2 separate regions of the Homo sapiens genome follow, and region 2 is linked to region 1. A link means that fine-mapping ties the variant in region 1 to the expression of a gene that starts in the linked region. Tissue or cell type: whole blood. Region 1 holds a variant in brackets; the other region holds the start of a gene. All regions are shown on one strand. Distances are from middle to middle.

The links. PIP is the estimated chance that this variant, and not a neighbour inherited with it, causes the effect.
Region 2: it holds the start of BMP2, and the variant in region 1 is fine-mapped to the expression of BMP2 in whole blood (TOPMed, PIP above 0.99).

What each region holds. Positions count from the first base shown.
Region 1 is chr20:6,892,703-6,901,032 of GRCh38, forward strand. No RefSeq gene overlaps it. Among named protein-coding and RNA genes, the nearest start is that of BMP2, 130 kb to the left of the region's middle. The variant T/C (reference allele first, on the strand shown) is at 3,512.
Region 2 is chr20:6,764,104-6,772,433 of GRCh38, forward strand. BMP2 (bone morphogenetic protein 2) reads left to right here and starts at 3,583. Exons shown (of 3, transcript NM_001200.4): 1 at 3,583-4,772; 2 at 6,017-6,369. The coding sequence starts at 6,024. LOC105372517 (a long non-coding RNA gene) reads right to left here and starts at 3,381. Exons shown (of 4, transcript XR_937229.2): 1 at 3,218-3,381; 2 at 2,297-2,702; 3 at 1,749-1,905; 4 at 1,490-1,566. RefSeq lists promoters at 1-4,637, 3,447-4,088, 3,478-4,637, cis regulatory regions at 2,551-3,341, 3,348-3,447, 4,088-4,262 and silencers at 3,527-3,576, 3,667-3,716.

The sequences.
Region 1 (8,330 bases):
ATCATGATGGGGTTTGCCTGACTTTAAATTTGCCATATTTGAGACAGTGATAAGGATCTAAATGAAGTTTCAGTCAGAGGATTTAAAGAGCAAAAGCAGAAGAAAGAACAGAAGCAGGAGAATTAATTGCTTGACCACCTAGAGAATGATGATGTGATTATGGAAGCAATTGTTTGACTGATTTTTATTCATTTTTTCCTGTGAAATTCAAAGAAAATGCTGACAGCATCATAATATGACAGTCCAAATCCAAGCACTTCAGCAAGTGGGGATTTATTTATTTTTTTCTTCTTATCAAGGTTGAAAGATCTTCTAAGCACACATGAAAGAAACAGCAGGGCCAAGACTACTTTGAACTTACTGCATACGATTCCTTTCATATAAGATGTGCTTGACAAACATTAATTAAGTCTCCCAGCACCTCTTTGAAGTAATGTAGGAAATATGTAGAGGTGGGTAAACTGAGGCCCCAGGAACTAGAAGGAGAGCCTGAGGACATACCAGGGCAGGTGCAGCATTTGAAAAGACCCTCACAGGAGGCCCCTCTTTCTCTGATGAGGCCAGATGTAGGTGCTTGTTTCCAAGCAGAGGTCTTCCAACAAGTTCTCTCAACCAGGCAGGGGTGAGGCAGACTAGTTATTTGCTCCAATGGCCATACTCTCTGACCTAAAACTTTGGAGAACTAAAGGCTCCTCAGACCTGGCAGCCTTGAGCCTCATAGCACACCCTATCTACCTATAATCCAGATCCACCATCTCCTTCCTGAAATTGACAGCTGTGTTGCATCTCTCCTAATGCTTGTTTTGTCCTTATAACTGGCTGAGACCACTTGATTCAATGGCTAAAAGAAGTACCCTGAGTCACTTTGGTGCCTGAGTTTCTGCTTTTTTTTTTTTTTTTTTTTGCTTTTTCATTTTTGGAGATTAGCCTCACTGGTTTAGCATGAAAGATGTTTATTACGGGCAAATGGAGAAGTTGAGTTGTGATACAGGCCCCTTGGCAGCTTTGGCCAAACTCACAGGGGGCTCTAAAGCTGAAATAGCCCTTCAAAATTGTCCCGAGTTGGTTACTTCCATGTTGATTAATCACTGGATGTGGCTCTTCTGGGAAGGGCAGAGGCTGAATCAATTCCTGAAAAAGGTGAATGGCTAAAGACTGTGCCCAGGCCACATTAGGAAACACATCTTCTGCTTGCTAAACTAGGTGCATCCAAAAAGACGGACCTTGATCAGTTTTATTGGCTACCCAAATATCAATTCATTCTACACATTCAACTGGTCTTCTAACCTATATATATATATATATATGTGATGCTGGAAATGATATTAAACACTAAAGCAATAAAATACGAAGTCTCTGCAGTCAGGAAACTTAGTCTGGTGAGAGAGATACTAAATAAATAGATAAACCTAGAAACATAATTAGTTCAGAAACGGCTAAATGCTTTAGGCAATAAAAGAATCAGAGAGGAAATACAAAATAAACATACACATGTGTTACTGAAGAGAAAAATATGGAAAACACTATCATTTAGTGTTATTCTCATCTAGAGAAATAAAAAGTCTTTGATGATCCAACAAGGTATGCAGATCACTAGTAATTTAGAAGGTTAGAAAACTAAGAGTTATGATTGAAACTTACGGTAAATAAGTGAAAACATTTTTATATTGCATTTTTTTGGCAAAAAGAACAAAATAATTAAAATAATTAGAGAAAAATAACATTTTTAGAAAGGAAGATTTAGAATTAGTAAATCATAAACAAGTATTTGGTAAACAGATCTGTAACGACAAATGAATATTTTTGTTATCTACTGACTCTTTTTATTTCTAATGTATTCTTCTAAATCCACTGTCCTTTTTTTTCTTAGCAAAAGTTTTTTTGGCAATATTTCTTAAAGAAATCTTTGACTATAAACATGTTCAGTTGCTTTACCAAAAGTAATAATTTCTTGCAATTCCTGTTCCTGTTAAAATTTCTAAGGAAGCCATTCAAAGATGAGTGACATCTAGATATTTTGTTCATTAGTTCGCTTAACCATTGATTTTCTATTTTATTTACTACATTTTCCTTTTTCTCTATGATTTAGCTCTCCAAAACATTTGGTCGGTTTATATGAAAGGGGCTATATCATAAACGCTTTTAAGGTCTATATGATTTATACATACAGCTCTCATGATTCATTTCTCAAATAGCCATGTTTGTGGATTTTTTTTAATTAAATTCTTGATTTATGTGAAATAGATAAATACACGGATCATTCAGAACAAGGGTGTCTGTGTCTGGGGGTGGGGAGGGGAAGGACGGGAGGGATTTGGATGCATGAATAACTCCCTATTGGTCCTAATGGGATTTGCACAAGGAAGACTCCTGTATTCCAAGATACAATCTTCCTTCATTCTGACATGTGGTTAGCTATATGTTATTGATATCATAACTTTAATTTCCGAGCCATGTTAAATCGATACATGTTTTAGATGTCCCCCTTAAGGAATGAAACATAAAAGAATATGCCTTTTTTCTTCTACCTCTCCCCATGTTGTATTTGGCAAATTACTTTGACATTCTAAAATATCTTATCTACTTCTGACTTTAAATCGCTTAGGGCTGCATGCTGGTCTTTCCCCGTGTTGTAAACAATCCCCTATGTTTAATCAGAATTTACCATCATCATAGCAGAAAATAAAACCAAGAATGTGTCTTACAATGGGAGCATTTTATAAAAGACGATACTTAAACAGCGTTTCCTGTAATAGCAATAAAACATTTTCAAGCTCACTCTCAGCTGAGGAAGGGAACTTTTACCCTGCCCAGAACTAGAGTTGTGTGAGAAAGTGTATGTGTGCATGTTTCAAATAACCAAACTAATAAGTCTTATTTCTCTCCTTATTATAATCAGGGGAACAACCATTCTAATAAAATTGTGTTCAACAGTTCCTCTATAAACTCACTCCCTCATCCTAGCTCCACCTGGTATAATATAAAATCTAATATACTTTGGAGGCATTTTTAATAAAACTTTTTCAGATGACTCTATGTGGCAACACAATTCATTTATAGTTTCCTATTAGTTCACCTTTATAGAGGTTTTAGTCTTTTCTATCTCATGGGGTAAGTCACTTTTTTTCACAGCCAACATGTAGTTCTATTGATCTAATCTTTTTTAAAAGTTTTGAATGTAAGAACAAGGTTGGGATAGGAGGAGAAATTAGCTGACTCGTACCACTGTGATGTTAAGGTTGATATTTTATGTGGATTTTACATTACACCGACATCTTTTATTATAAGGCTATCTATTAACTATGCTATTTATGAAGGTAGGGAAAATGGAAGGAGATACTTCATGATTTATTTTTATTAAAATAGCTTCAAGATCATTCTGTATTATTCTCAGGGTCAAAATAGTGTTATTCATTCAAAGTGACTTCTTATGAAGGTAATATGATTCAAGGATGGTGATAATTTGGAATGACTTCATGGCAAAAAGACGTAGTGAAGCCTCCTGTGAGCA[T/C]GGGAGAAGGGAGTATTCAAATGAAGAAGGGTCACTTTTAATCAATGGCTGAAATCTGGCTGCCAGCATTTTGAAGTCCACACCTGTATTTGCATGGAGGTACCACTGGATTGTTGGACTATGGTGGTGCTTAGTATCCTGTTCTTAACATTCTTCTCCTTGGGCCTGTGACCTTATAGATGATAGTCAGCAAAGTGCAAAGTTGAGAAGCAACTCACTGCATATTGAAGAATCCCCCAAAATCTATGGAATTAAAGCATCAGATACCTCTGCAAGACTGGTTATGCAGTTTGTGAGGCTCAGTGCAAAATAAAAGAGCAGCCCTTTTATTTTGAAATAATTAAGAATTTAAAGATGGTGGCAGTACAGTATTAAACCAAGTATGGGGACCTTCTAAGTGCAGAACCTTATGTGACTGTTCAGGTTGCACACCCATGAAGCTTGCCTGCCTTCAGACACCTCTGGATGTGAAGGCTAAAGTAAAGCTAAAAACGAAATTCTACTTAAGTAGTGAGACATCAGATTGCCATTTCTGCTCTACACAGATGGGCTGGGGTCTCCTACCAGCAGAAGGCTGAAGTTGAGCATTCAGAGTATGGCCTTGGATATTCTACTATTTGCTGCATATAAATTCATTTCTCTAAGCCCAAGGGTCCTTGTTTCTAAAATAATAGTTTAAAGCAGATCTTCCAGATGCTTGAAAACTGAACTTAGTATTCTCTTTTTTTTTTTTTTTTTTTAAGAAGGAGTCTCACTCTGTAGCCCAGGTTGGAGTGCAGTGGCTCGATCTCGGCTCACTGCAAGCTCCGCCTCCCGGGTTCACGCCATTCTCCTGCCTCAGCCTCCCAGGTAGCTGGGACTACAGATGCCTGCCACCACACCTGGCTAATTTTTTGTATTTTAGTAGAGACAGGGTTTCACCATGTTAACCAGGATGGTCTCAATCTCCTGGCCTCATGATCTGCCCGCCTCGGACTCCCAAAGTGCTGGGATTACAGGCATGAGCCACCGCACCTGACCTTACTATTCTTAAAAATGTTCAAAAGCAAGACAAAAACTTTCAAAAGCAACCCTTGGGGGGTTTGAGGTGGCTTCCTGAAAAAGTTGGGGTATAAAGAGGCATAAGTGATCAATATTTTTCTCTAGTGATGGCTATGATTTCTCTCAAAATGTAGCAGTGTATTGAAGTAGAACATGGAAGTTATGAAAACTCTGAGATGAGGCAGATCTGAAATGAACCCATGCTCTGTCCATTACAAGCTGTGTCACAAAACTTCTTGTACAATGTGGTCAGTAATAGTACTTACATTAACGAGTTGTTGATATATAAGATAATACATGAATGGTACTTCTTTGGATGCCTGGCACATAGTAAGCATTCAGTAAATGGATGTGGATGAAGGCGAAGAAGGAGAAGAGGAGGAGGAGGAAGAGAAGGAAGAATATGATAATGGTAGTGGTGGTGGTGAAAATGGAAGCCATGGTTATTAAGAAAGTGGGAGCTGAACTGGAACCAGTCTGTGCTAGAATCTTCTTATCATCACTACTTGTAAGACCCTGGACAAGTAACAACCTCTTGGTGGGTTCCTGTATCGGTAAACTATCACTGAGTAACAAACCACCTCAAAACTCAGTGACTTAAAATGACTAGTATTTATTCTTGTTCATGTGACTACACAAGAGGCAGCTAGTCAGCTGGGAACCTAGGCTTCAAGTTGCCGATCTAGCTGGCCTGGGTTCTAGGCTGGCAGCTGGGCTCAGGTCTACTTTCCATGTCTGCTATCCCCATTGGATCTGCAGTCTGACTGGAGTGTATTCTCATGGCAATGGTGGAAGCACTAGAGGAAAAACTCCCTGTGCAAATCCATGTCAAGGTTTGTCTGACATATGGCTATGAATATCCCATTGACCAAAGCAACTCACACAGCTGAGACTCAAGACAATGAACAGGGAAGCATGCATTACATCTACTGGGAAGAACCCCTATGGCCAAGGGGTGGATACAGACAAGGAAAAGAACTGGGGCAATGAGTTTCTTTACATGGAATATGGTGCTAACAAAGTGACTTCACTCATAGACCTGTTTTGAGCATTAAATAAGATAATCCATGTAAAGCATTTAGCACAGTGTAGGCACATAATTGGCACTTAATAAATGTCAGCTATGTTAGTAATGAAGATTCTCATCATTCTATGACCCTAATGTAATGAAAGATTTTACACAAGAAAGGCATGTGTAGTCAGGGGAAGTTGGAAAATGTTGGAATAAGTTTAGTGGTGAAATTTTAGCCAGGCCTTAGAAAAAACGGGCAGAATTTTCATGAAAAGAAGGAGGGAGAGGGTGTCACTGAATGACAAAGAACAAAAACAAAAAGCCTAGAGGCAAAATAACATGGATCCAAAACACGGATTGTGTTTGGAGTTTTAGGTGAATTAACCACCCTTTATTTCCATCACTTTTCTTTTAAAATCCTTGAGGTGAATTGTCATTCCCAATCCTGCTGTTTGTTTGGAAAGAGAACAGAGAGTACACTTATAATAAACCAGCTGTAAACCTGTGTTCTCAGCTTGGAACTTCCTCCAGCACTTCCCCTCCCTGGGCAGGTGCTGCTTCCCAGGGGTCTCCTTCCATCCTGAATGGAAAGCTTGTCTGCAGTAATCCAAGGGTGCCAGGAATTAGGAAAGACGCCTTGAGGGCTCGATCCTGCCTTATAGCCATGAAGAATGGCTATTGCTTATGTGCAAGACTCCAGGAAGAGCCCTGAGTCTCCATGAATTCTTTTGTTCTCCCTGAGCAGCAGGGATTTGAAGCAGAGGACCCTGTTAGCAATGAATATTGTGAGCGCTTCTGTCCAAGCCTCCTGTATATGCCACACTCAACTTTCCCGGCCCTGCCCTTGTGGCAGCCTGCTGCCTTGCTCGCACCCTGGTGTGCTGATTAACCAACAGGGGCAGAGAGCCTGCTGCTGACACAGCCCAAGTTGTCCAGGCCTGTTAGCATCCCCCTCAATAGACACAGCCTGAAAAAAGGTGAGGGGCTTTCCTCCCCTCCTAGGAAACATATGTGTACTCTGAGGGTGTGCTTTTGAAGACAAACCTTTAGAGAAATCATACATAGAATAAAGTCAAGCTTGGAATTCTTCCAGCTTTAACATCATCCTACGTCTCCCTTTTCATCTCACCTCACCCTACCCAAGGAAGCATGGTTTGAAACCTCTTCAAATGCTTTCGGCTTTCAACTCTAGCCTTCAAATGGATTTTGACAAATTATTGTTCAAAACCATTTTATCTGGTTATTCCTGTCTGTATCGATGCTTTTCAGAGTGGTTGTGTCCTTACACACATTAAGGGATGCAAGTTAAAGGAGATGGTGATGGCTGTCCAGTTATTTAACAAATATTCAGTGTTGAAGATGTTGTAGTGTGTCCCTCAGATCTCCCCTTTAGGACTGAGGCACTCTTTCCCCTAGTGGCTGGGACTGTTGGCAGCTAACACCTCTCAGCCTTGTATCTCTCTGATCACTGTTCTCAGGTAGAGAGAACGCTCATCTCCAAAATTATGCTCTTTTCTTGGGAACAGTCTTCTCCAGACTGGTAGGTAAAAGGGAAAACACCATGCCTCGAAGTGGGACAACTTAAAAGGGCTGTCCCAACTTCAGAGCTGTCTTGGGGTTAGTTGAGGCTTTTGTTGTAACCCAGTCCTCTTCTTAGTCCTATTATCCTCATTCAACCATGTGTATTGATCCTGGGAACACTTTGCAGTAACTTCTTTTTTTTTGAGATGGAGTCTTACTCTGTCGTCAGGCTGGAGTGCTGTGGCGCAATCTCGGCTCACTGCAACCTCCAGCTCCCAGGTTCAAGTGATTCTCCTTCCTCAGCCGACCGAGTAGATGGGATTACAGGGACACGCCACCAGGCCCAGCTACATTTTGTATTTTTAGTAGAGACGGGGTTTCACCATGTTAGCTAGGATGGTCTCAATCTCTTGACCTCATGATCTGCCCGTCTTGGCCTCCCAAAGTGCTGGGATTACAGACGTGAGCCACTGCGCCTGGCCTGCAGGAACTTCTTTACACAGATATCTGCCTTAAAGTCATTTTCCTTAGAACTCTGATCTAGGACATCGGCTGTGGGCCAGGCATGGCTCTCGGCACTTTTCATACCTTAGCCCACTTAATACTCACAACTGCCATCCTTAAGAATTAAGGAAACCAAGGTCGGGGCAGGCTAACTAACTTGCCCGAGCTTCCTCTTAGTAAGTGGCAAAAATGTCTGCCTTTCTCCAAATTCCATAATCTGTATGCTGCCTCACCATTTTAAAAACAGCAAAGGCAGCTTAAGGCATGCAAAAATGTGGACCATTTGTTGAACAAATGAATGAATAAATGAGATGTCAAAGCAAACAGGAAGGTGGTCAAATGTACAGTAAAATGATCTTTCTGTAGGAATGTCAGGGATGAGTACCAGGGAATCTACACTGGGATTCAGCTGTGTATGAGTGTGTCTGATGCACGGATAGATCTGCGGCCATGGGTAAAATCAAAACCCCATAAGAGAGCTGCACACTAGATTCATCAAAGTGAGGGTGGAAGGAGGAAGAGCTACCACACTTAAATGGAGGTATTTGAGAAAGGAACTATTTACAAGAGTGTAGACAGATCTAAAAGAAACTTACAAGGGACGGTGAAGCTTTCTGTGTCTGACAACAGCAGGCAGCCATTATCACCTGTAAGACTGAATAGACTTTTTGGAAAATATTTTAATACTTGTGCCAATATAATTCATATCCTTTGTAATCTAATGTATTTTATTTTGTGCAT
Region 2 (8,330 bases), 130 kb before region 1:
TGGCAATATAATAAAAGCTGGGAGAAGAGAAGGAGAAGGAGGAGAAAGAGGAGGAGAAGAAAGGCATCCAAAGTCCTATTTCTTAAAACCAGGCCATATTGCAGACAGAAGGCCAAAGAATACATTTGAAGATACATAGAGTGAGTAGCAATCAGAAACTAAGTTCACACATGTTATCCATTTGACCTTCATCATGTCAGTCTGAAGCAAGCAAACATATATTTATTTACCCCAATTAACAGATGAAATGACCATTTTAAAGTCAGTCATCCATGACAGAACCAGGAATTAGAACCCAGGTCACCCAACTACATCTTAGAGTGTTATCAACATAGTTTACAGACATAACTTAAGGTGTACATCTTAAACTGTGTGACAGTCTAATCAATGCACAAAATTCATTCTTTTTAATTTTTAAGAAGATGTAGTTGGTACTTGCTGAAAGCAGTGATCCTGATTTGGCCAACTTGGCCTAGTTTCTGATATAAATCACTCCACCTCTCCCATCCTTTCTACCATGTCTAATCAAACACCAAAAAGGAAAACATTTGATTGACTAAATGCTTCTCTTTTGCCTTGGCTCCAAGTTCCTGTAAAAAAAACTTCATCCAGGTAAAGTAAGTAGGGATGGTTATGGGTGTCACCCTTGTAACAAAGCGATATGTATGCTAAAAAGCAAAGAGGGTTTCTCAGGGCAGTTGCCACAGGTTTCCATGGAATGACAATTACAAGGTAGATGGATCACGTAATGCCTGCTGTGAACTTTACAATACATGGGGATCACTATTTTAATGTTGATTTGCATAATGTTTGGCCTAGCAAGAACAATACTGAATGCTAATAGCTACAGAATGCAATAAAATGGAATATCATGTGAGCTGAAGTGCTAAAATTGCTAAAGTATGACTGTAAGCAGTTAATTTCATCCCGAGTCTTGTCCACACACAATCAAATGCAAATTTCCACTATCTCCTGAGAAACTGCCAAGAGATGACTGAAATGGAATAGCAACAACCTCCTTTATGTGGAATCATTATCTGGTCATCTTTGCTTTTTTACATAACTTGTCTGTACCCTCTGATGCATTTGAATTTGCAACTTCTACTATCCCTATCTTAAACAACTCCCCACTCCCACCTCTGCCCCTTCCACATTTGCTGGCAGATGCACTAAGTCTGATAAACTCAGCAAGACTGAATCTCACCCTCTGAACTGAAAAACTTTGAATGGACCTTTGAAAACGGTAGAATTGACAATGGTTAGCTGCAAGTGATATTTTCAAGGCAAACAGACACTCTCCCAAAGTATTAAATAACCCAGCATTCTAAGTTGCAGGTGGAAGGTAGCCATTAGTGAAGAGAGAGAAAAAAAAAAGAAATAGCTCGTCTGTATTTAGATTTATCATTTCTGACTATTGCTCTTCCCTGGAAAACGGGTAGGTACAGTCATCCTGTACTTCGATCCCAAATCAGTCTCTGGAGACTACTTATTTATTTATTTATTTATTTATGGACTTCTTTCTTTCAAGCGTTCGAACTCATTTCCACCACAAGAGGGCAGCCATCTCTAAAAAAAAAAAAATAGGGCCAAAATTTATGTAAGTTGTGCTTGGAACAAGCATTCAGTAGTTCCTCAGAAATCATACACCCTACATAAAAGAGATTCTGCAATGGGCAGCACTAACATGAAACAGTGTTCAGAAGTACCCATTTTCCCTCAGATTCTAAACTGACAAGGTTTCCACTTACCAGGTTATGAAGTTCTAAAGCTGCAAGACATCCTTGAGGTCATCACAGGATATTTATTTATTTTTTCTTCGGGTGCATCCAATAGTTATCAACTTTTCCTCCTCTTTAAAAGCTACTTAAATCTCATTGAAGTTTTGTTTTGTTTTGTTTTTGAAATCTAAGTAATGAGAGAAACAATTGTTAACTTCTCAATTAAACTTGATAGGAAAGGAAATAATTTCAGAAGCCCTGTGTCCATGAGTAGGATATGTTTTATTGCCTCCTTGTTTGCGGTGCAATGACTCTGAGTGACAATCAACTTCTATAGCACCTTTTTTTTTTTTTTCAGGAAATAAAGTAGCATGTTCCTGAATAATTCCCCCACCCCCTTTTATTTTCCTGGTAGTCAGGCTTCCTCCAAAATACCTTATTTGACCTTTATACCTTTAGAAACAGCAAGTGCCTAATTCGCCTCTGTGGGTTGCTAATCCGATTTACGTGAGCGGAACCTAGTATTATTTTAGCTCCCCTACCGAAAAAATAATACACATGGATAATAGTTCTATTACCAGCTCCTGCTTCTGACTTTTTTCTCTCTGTTTCGCAGGCCCGATAGCTCTGGGAAAGCAGAACTTGGCCTTTTCCAAAAATTTTCTGCCCTTGGTTTTGGGGATCATTTGGGCAAGCCCGAGGTGCTGTGCATGGGGGCTCCTGGAATCCTGGGAAGGGCAGAAAGCCTTGGCCCCAGACTCATCGTGCAGCAGCTCTGAGCAGTATTTCGGCTGAGGAGTGACTTCAGTGAATATTCAGCTGAGGAGTGACTTGGCCACGTGTCACAGCCCTACTTCTTGGGGGCCTGGTGGAAGAGGGTGGCGTAGAAGGTTCCAAGGTCCCAAACTGGAATTGTCCTGTATGCTTGGTTCACACAGTGCGTTATTTTACCTTCCTCTGAGCTGCTAATCGCCTGCCTCTGAGCTGGGTGAGATAAATATCACAAGGCACAAAGTGATTGTACAATAAAAAAATCAAATCCCTCCCATCCATCCTTCAGTCTGCCACACACGCAGTCTACGTTACACACATGTCACGTAAAGCAGGATGACATCCATGTCACATACATAGACATATTAACCGAAATGTGGCCCTTCGGTTGCATATATTCTCATACATGAATATATTTATAGAAATATATGCACATATTTTTGTATATTGGATATATTTATGTAACTATAAATTTACATGCGTATGGATATGAAAATAAATGCATACACATTTATGTAAAAAAATTTGTACACATGCATTTACATATGTAAATACATACATCTCTATGTATTAATGTTTAAAAACACTCAATTTCCAGCCTGCTGTTTTCTTTTAATTTTCCTCCTATTCCGGGGAAACAGAAGCGTGGATCCCACGTCTATGCTATGCCAAAATACGCTGTAATTGAGGTGTTTTGTTTTGTTTTGTTTTTTGAAATCGTATATTACCGAAAAACTTCAAACTGAAAGTTGAATAACGGGCCCAGCGGGGAAATAAGAGGCCAGACCCTGACCCTGCATTTGTCCTGGATTTCGCCTCCAGAGTCCCCGCGAGGGTCCGGCGCGCCAGCTGATCTCTCCTTTGAGAGCAGGGAGTGGAGGCGCGAGCGCCCCCCTTGGCGGCCGCGCGCCCCCGCCCTCCGCCCCACCCCGCCGCGGCTGCCCGGGCGCGCCGTCCACACCCCTGCGCGCAGCTCCCGCCCGCTCGGGGATCCCCGGCGAGCCGCGCCGCGAAGGGGGAGGTGTTCGGCCGCGGCCGGGAGGGAGCCGGCAGGCGGCGTCCCCTTTAAAAGCCGCGAGCGCCGCGCCACGGCGCCGCCGCCGCCGTCGCCGCCGCCGGAGTCCTCGCCCCGCCGCGCTGCGCCCGGCTCGCGCTGCGCTAGTCGCTCCGCTTCCCACACCCCGCCGGGGACTGGCAGCCGCCGCCGCACATCTGCCGCCACAGCCTCCGCCGGCTACCCGAACGTTCTCGGGGCCAGCGCCGAGTGGATCACCGGGGACCGCGAGGCACCCGCGCGCCGCAGACCCCGCGCGGGCTGGAGCACCCGGCAGAGCGCGCCACAGCGCCGTGGCCTCTGCTGCCCGGGCTGCGCCAGAGCCGCGGACGGGCGCGCAGAGCGCCGGGGACTCCGGAGCCGATCCCTAGCGCCGCGATGCGGAGCACCTACTGCAGGAGATCGGGGGCCTGGGACGCGCTGGCCGAGGTGTGATCGGACCCCAGGCTAGCCACAAAGGGCACTTGGCCCCAGGGCTAGGAGAGCGAGGGGAGAGCACAGCCACCCGCCTCGGCGGCCCGGGACTCGGCTCGACTCGCCGGAGAATGCGCCCGAGGACGACGGGGCGCCAGAGCCGCGGTGCTTTCAACTGGCGAGCGCGAATGGGGGTGCACTGGAGTAAGGCAGAGTGATGCGGGGGGGCAACTCGCCTGGCACCGAGATCGCCGCCGTGCCCTTCCCTGGACCCGGCGTCGCCCAGGATGGCTGCCCCGAGCCATGGGCCGCGGCGGAGCTAGCGCGGAGCGCCCGACCCTCGACCCCCGAGTCCCGGAGCCGGCCCCGCGCGGGGCCACGCGTCCCTCGGGCGCTGGTTCCTAAGGAGGACGACAGCACCAGCTTCTCCTTTCTCCCTTCCCTTCCCTGCCCCGCACTCCTCCCCCTGCTCGCTGTTGTTGTGTGTCAGCACTTGGCTGGGGACTTCTTGAACTTGCAGGGAGAATAACTTGCGCACCCCACTTTGCGCCGGTGCCTTTGCCCCAGCGGAGCCTGCTTCGCCATCTCCGAGCCCCACCGCCCCTCCACTCCTCGGCCTTGCCCGACACTGAGACGCTGTTCCCAGCGTGAAAAGAGAGACTGCGCGGCCGGCACCCGGGAGAAGGAGGAGGCAAAGAAAAGGAACGGACATTCGGTCCTTGCGCCAGGTCCTTTGACCAGAGTTTTTCCATGTGGACGCTCTTTCAATGGACGTGTCCCCGCGTGCTTCTTAGACGGACTGCGGTCTCCTAAAGGTAGAGGACGCGGGCCAGGGCCCGGGGTGGGTGGTGGGTGGGAGGGGGATTTGGGCAGCCACTGCGGTAGAGCCCTTCCTTACGTCCAGGCCAGAAGTAAACAGACCCCTCTCCAGTCCACGTGCAACGGAGCCCTGCAGGGGCTCCCACTTCCAGCTGCCCCGGGCGACCGTAAGCCTCACCCTCCCGGCCCGCACTCTTCCACCCCTCTTTCTTCCCCTCTCCCTGGAATACTTTTGGAGCTGTTAACACTTAGATGAGGTGTTTTATTTATTTATTTATTTATTTTTAATTTTTTTAAAAACTTTTTTGGGTCAAAGAAATCCCTTTGAGAGGGTAGCCCCTGGGTTTCACCCGTTAGCTGAGAACCTGTCCGCTCTGCCATGGTGATCTCCATTCTTCAAGTGTTTCCGGGAGACTTGGTTTCTTTGCTCAGAGCCGTGTCCCATTTAGGAAAGTACTAGGAGTTTGGGGTTCTCCCTACTTGTTTCCAGAAATGCGAGGGGTCAGTACTGAAGGATCACTTGGTACTGTGTTTTTAACAGCTGACACGTGCATTAATAGATATTCACCATTTACGTAATCCCGGGAAGATACATGTGTATCTTGACTGCACTGTGGGGATGCGGGATGGAGCTGCCTTTCGAGACACCCCTGAGGGTAGGGGCCTGGGACACAAGTCATAAGTGGCTTCAGAAGTTGTGGCCTTGAGCTTACAGGGTCTGGAAGCTATAAGGGTGTGTGTGTGTGTGTGTGTGTGTGTGTGTGTGTGTCAGGAAGTTCTATACAGTGCCTCTAAGGAAGTCACATGCACCATTTATGTGTGTTTATATGCCAGACAGCGCTCAGCACTCCGCATTTGGGTTTGTATAGGGGACGCAGGGTGTCAGATCAAGCGGTGGTTTTCCCAGGTTCCCGGCATTGGCTGTCAGCGCTGTGTCACACACAAAAAAGTGACAGTCATTGGCGCTGGTTTGGTTGGGGGGGAGGGCAAATCCCAAATCTGATGTCAGACGAGCTAAGCGTTGGATGGGAGCGATAAATCATCTGGTTCAGGAACTTGGGACCCTTCATTATCCCAAACGTTTGAGCTTCGGTCGGTCTTACCTAGACTCGTGAGTGTGCCAAGCCAGGAGGGCATCCTGGAGGAGGCACGCCAGCCAAATGGGAGACCGGGCCGCGGGGGCGCGAGGGGGGAGGACTGGGCGGGGAACTCGGGTGACTCACGTCGGTCCTGTCCGCAGGTCGACCATGGTGGCCGGGACCCGCTGTCTTCTAGCGTTGCTGCTTCCCCAGGTCCTCCTGGGCGGCGCGGCTGGCCTCGTTCCGGAGCTGGGCCGCAGGAAGTTCGCGGCGGCGTCGTCGGGCCGCCCCTCATCCCAGCCCTCTGACGAGGTCCTGAGCGAGTTCGAGTTGCGGCTGCTCAGCATGTTCGGCCTGAAACAGAGACCCACCCCCAGCAGGGACGCCGTGGTGCCCCCCTACATGCTAGACCTGTATCGCAGGCACTCAGGTCAGCCGGGCTCACCCGCCCCAGACCACCGGTTGGAGAGGGCAGCCAGCCGAGCCAACACTGTGCGCAGCTTCCACCATGAAGGTGAGGCATGGAGCAGGGCGTGGGGGCGGGGAGTCACCCTGCAAAGCCCTCCACCGTGGGCAGACTGCAGCCGTCCCTGTAGAGGCAGCTTGGCCGGGGCACCAGCGGACGTTTCCACTCTTGCTTCTGTACTATCGTTTCTGAATCTGATTTTAACTCACTGCTTGTGTGGTGGGGGAGCCAGGGATTCCCCTTTAGTAACTCCGCACCCTCTTCCTGGCTTGCAGCCAGAAGAGCTACTCCTCCTGGAAGAATTGGAGAGAAATCAAGTGATGGGGAAGATGAGGGCAAAAGGCATGCCTCTAGTCAGCTAAACGTGCAAGAATTCCACAGAGGGAAAAGGAGAAAAAGGGAGGCAGATTGAGATTTCTTTAAGTCTGTTTGGAAGCTTTTGCTCTATAAATCTGCCGCTTAAGCCAGGGTTTTAGGGTAGACAGAGCCAAGGGCAGAGTTTTCAGAGATAGTATTGAAAAATCAAAGCCCAGGGCCCCAAAGTCTTTCTAATTTATAGTTGATCTGGGCCTGGTTTGGAAGATTTTGAATCCCAATCTAATCCCCGTGGGAGATCAATACTACAATCAATCTTATTGTTTCCACAATGACTTTCTTGTCCTGTGCTTAAATCTGAGATAGGCTCTGAGTAGAGACAAGGCAAGCCTTCAGATAAAAGCGTTTGTAGCAGCTGCCTGTTTTTTTTTCATGTGCACCGAAATGTGGATTTTTTTTTCTTTTATGATACTACATGTGGTTTTTCTAAGGTGGGATATTTCTGCTTGTTTCATCAGAAGGGCATTTAGTGGACTGGAAATGTCTTACAGCAGCTATTGAGGTCTGCTGTACCTAAGTTCTTAGAGCAATTAGTCAAAAATATGTTCCACTTCAATTCTTTTTCTACACTTTTAAATGCTTCTTTGGCTTAATACATTTAAAATAGAGCATGGGTTTCTTCAATTCCTAGAAAAGAGTACAAAAGTGTATATCACAGAGCAACCACTTGGCAGATATTTGGGGAGTTGGGAGTGAAGTTCTCTTTCTTGCCTTTCCCTGCTTAGGTGGTAAATTTCAAGTGGGAAATTTACACTGATAATAGACTAATGGGAAATGGCACTTCCAGATGTTTTCTCCCAGTGTGAAGGGTGACTTATACTTGTGAGAGTATTTGTTGGTAATGGGAATAAGTCCCAAAGGCAAGCCACATAGCAGAAGATACGTTCTCATTGAGGCAGCTACACATTACGACGGGGACACTGAATTGATCATCAGTTCATTTACAAGCACATTTCTAAGTGAGGTGCTCTCTGCTAGCAGAAATCAGATTTGAAAGGCAGTAAGATCTCACTCCACTCTTTCAGAATTCATCCAATGAAAGCAGAAATCACCTGTTGTCATATGTAAAATTTGTGTGTATGTGTACATTCTGCCATCTTAACCCTGAAATGATTATAGATCCAGCTAATCATTCCCAGGTAATGCTGATTAGAATACTTTTTTTTTTGTATAGGAATGTAATAAGAACAACTGTTTTAGACACCTCTTCTGGAAATTTAGCATGGAAGCTCTCAACTTTATTTTTAAGGCCTGGAAGATGCTGTGTCTCTGTTACAACTTAAAAGGAAGATCATTTAAGTTAGTTAACACCTAAAACATTCCATTGTGTGAGGATTTTATCAGTGATGTCTGCATATTCTCATCATTCATCTAGAAGTGGTTTGATCAGAACTAAACAGGCTACACGTTATTCAACTGTGTTATTTTAACTTAAAAAGCATGCTTGAGTTTATAAAATCAGAATTTATATCTTTGTGAGTGTAAATGTTACCTGAGAAACAGTACAGAAGTGACCAACTTGATTAAAATCAACTTGTAATAACTTCAGGTCTTAATGCAGTTAGATAATGGAGAAAAGCTATGTAATTTTGCCCCAAATTTCAACTAATCCATTTCTTGTCTCATTATGACTA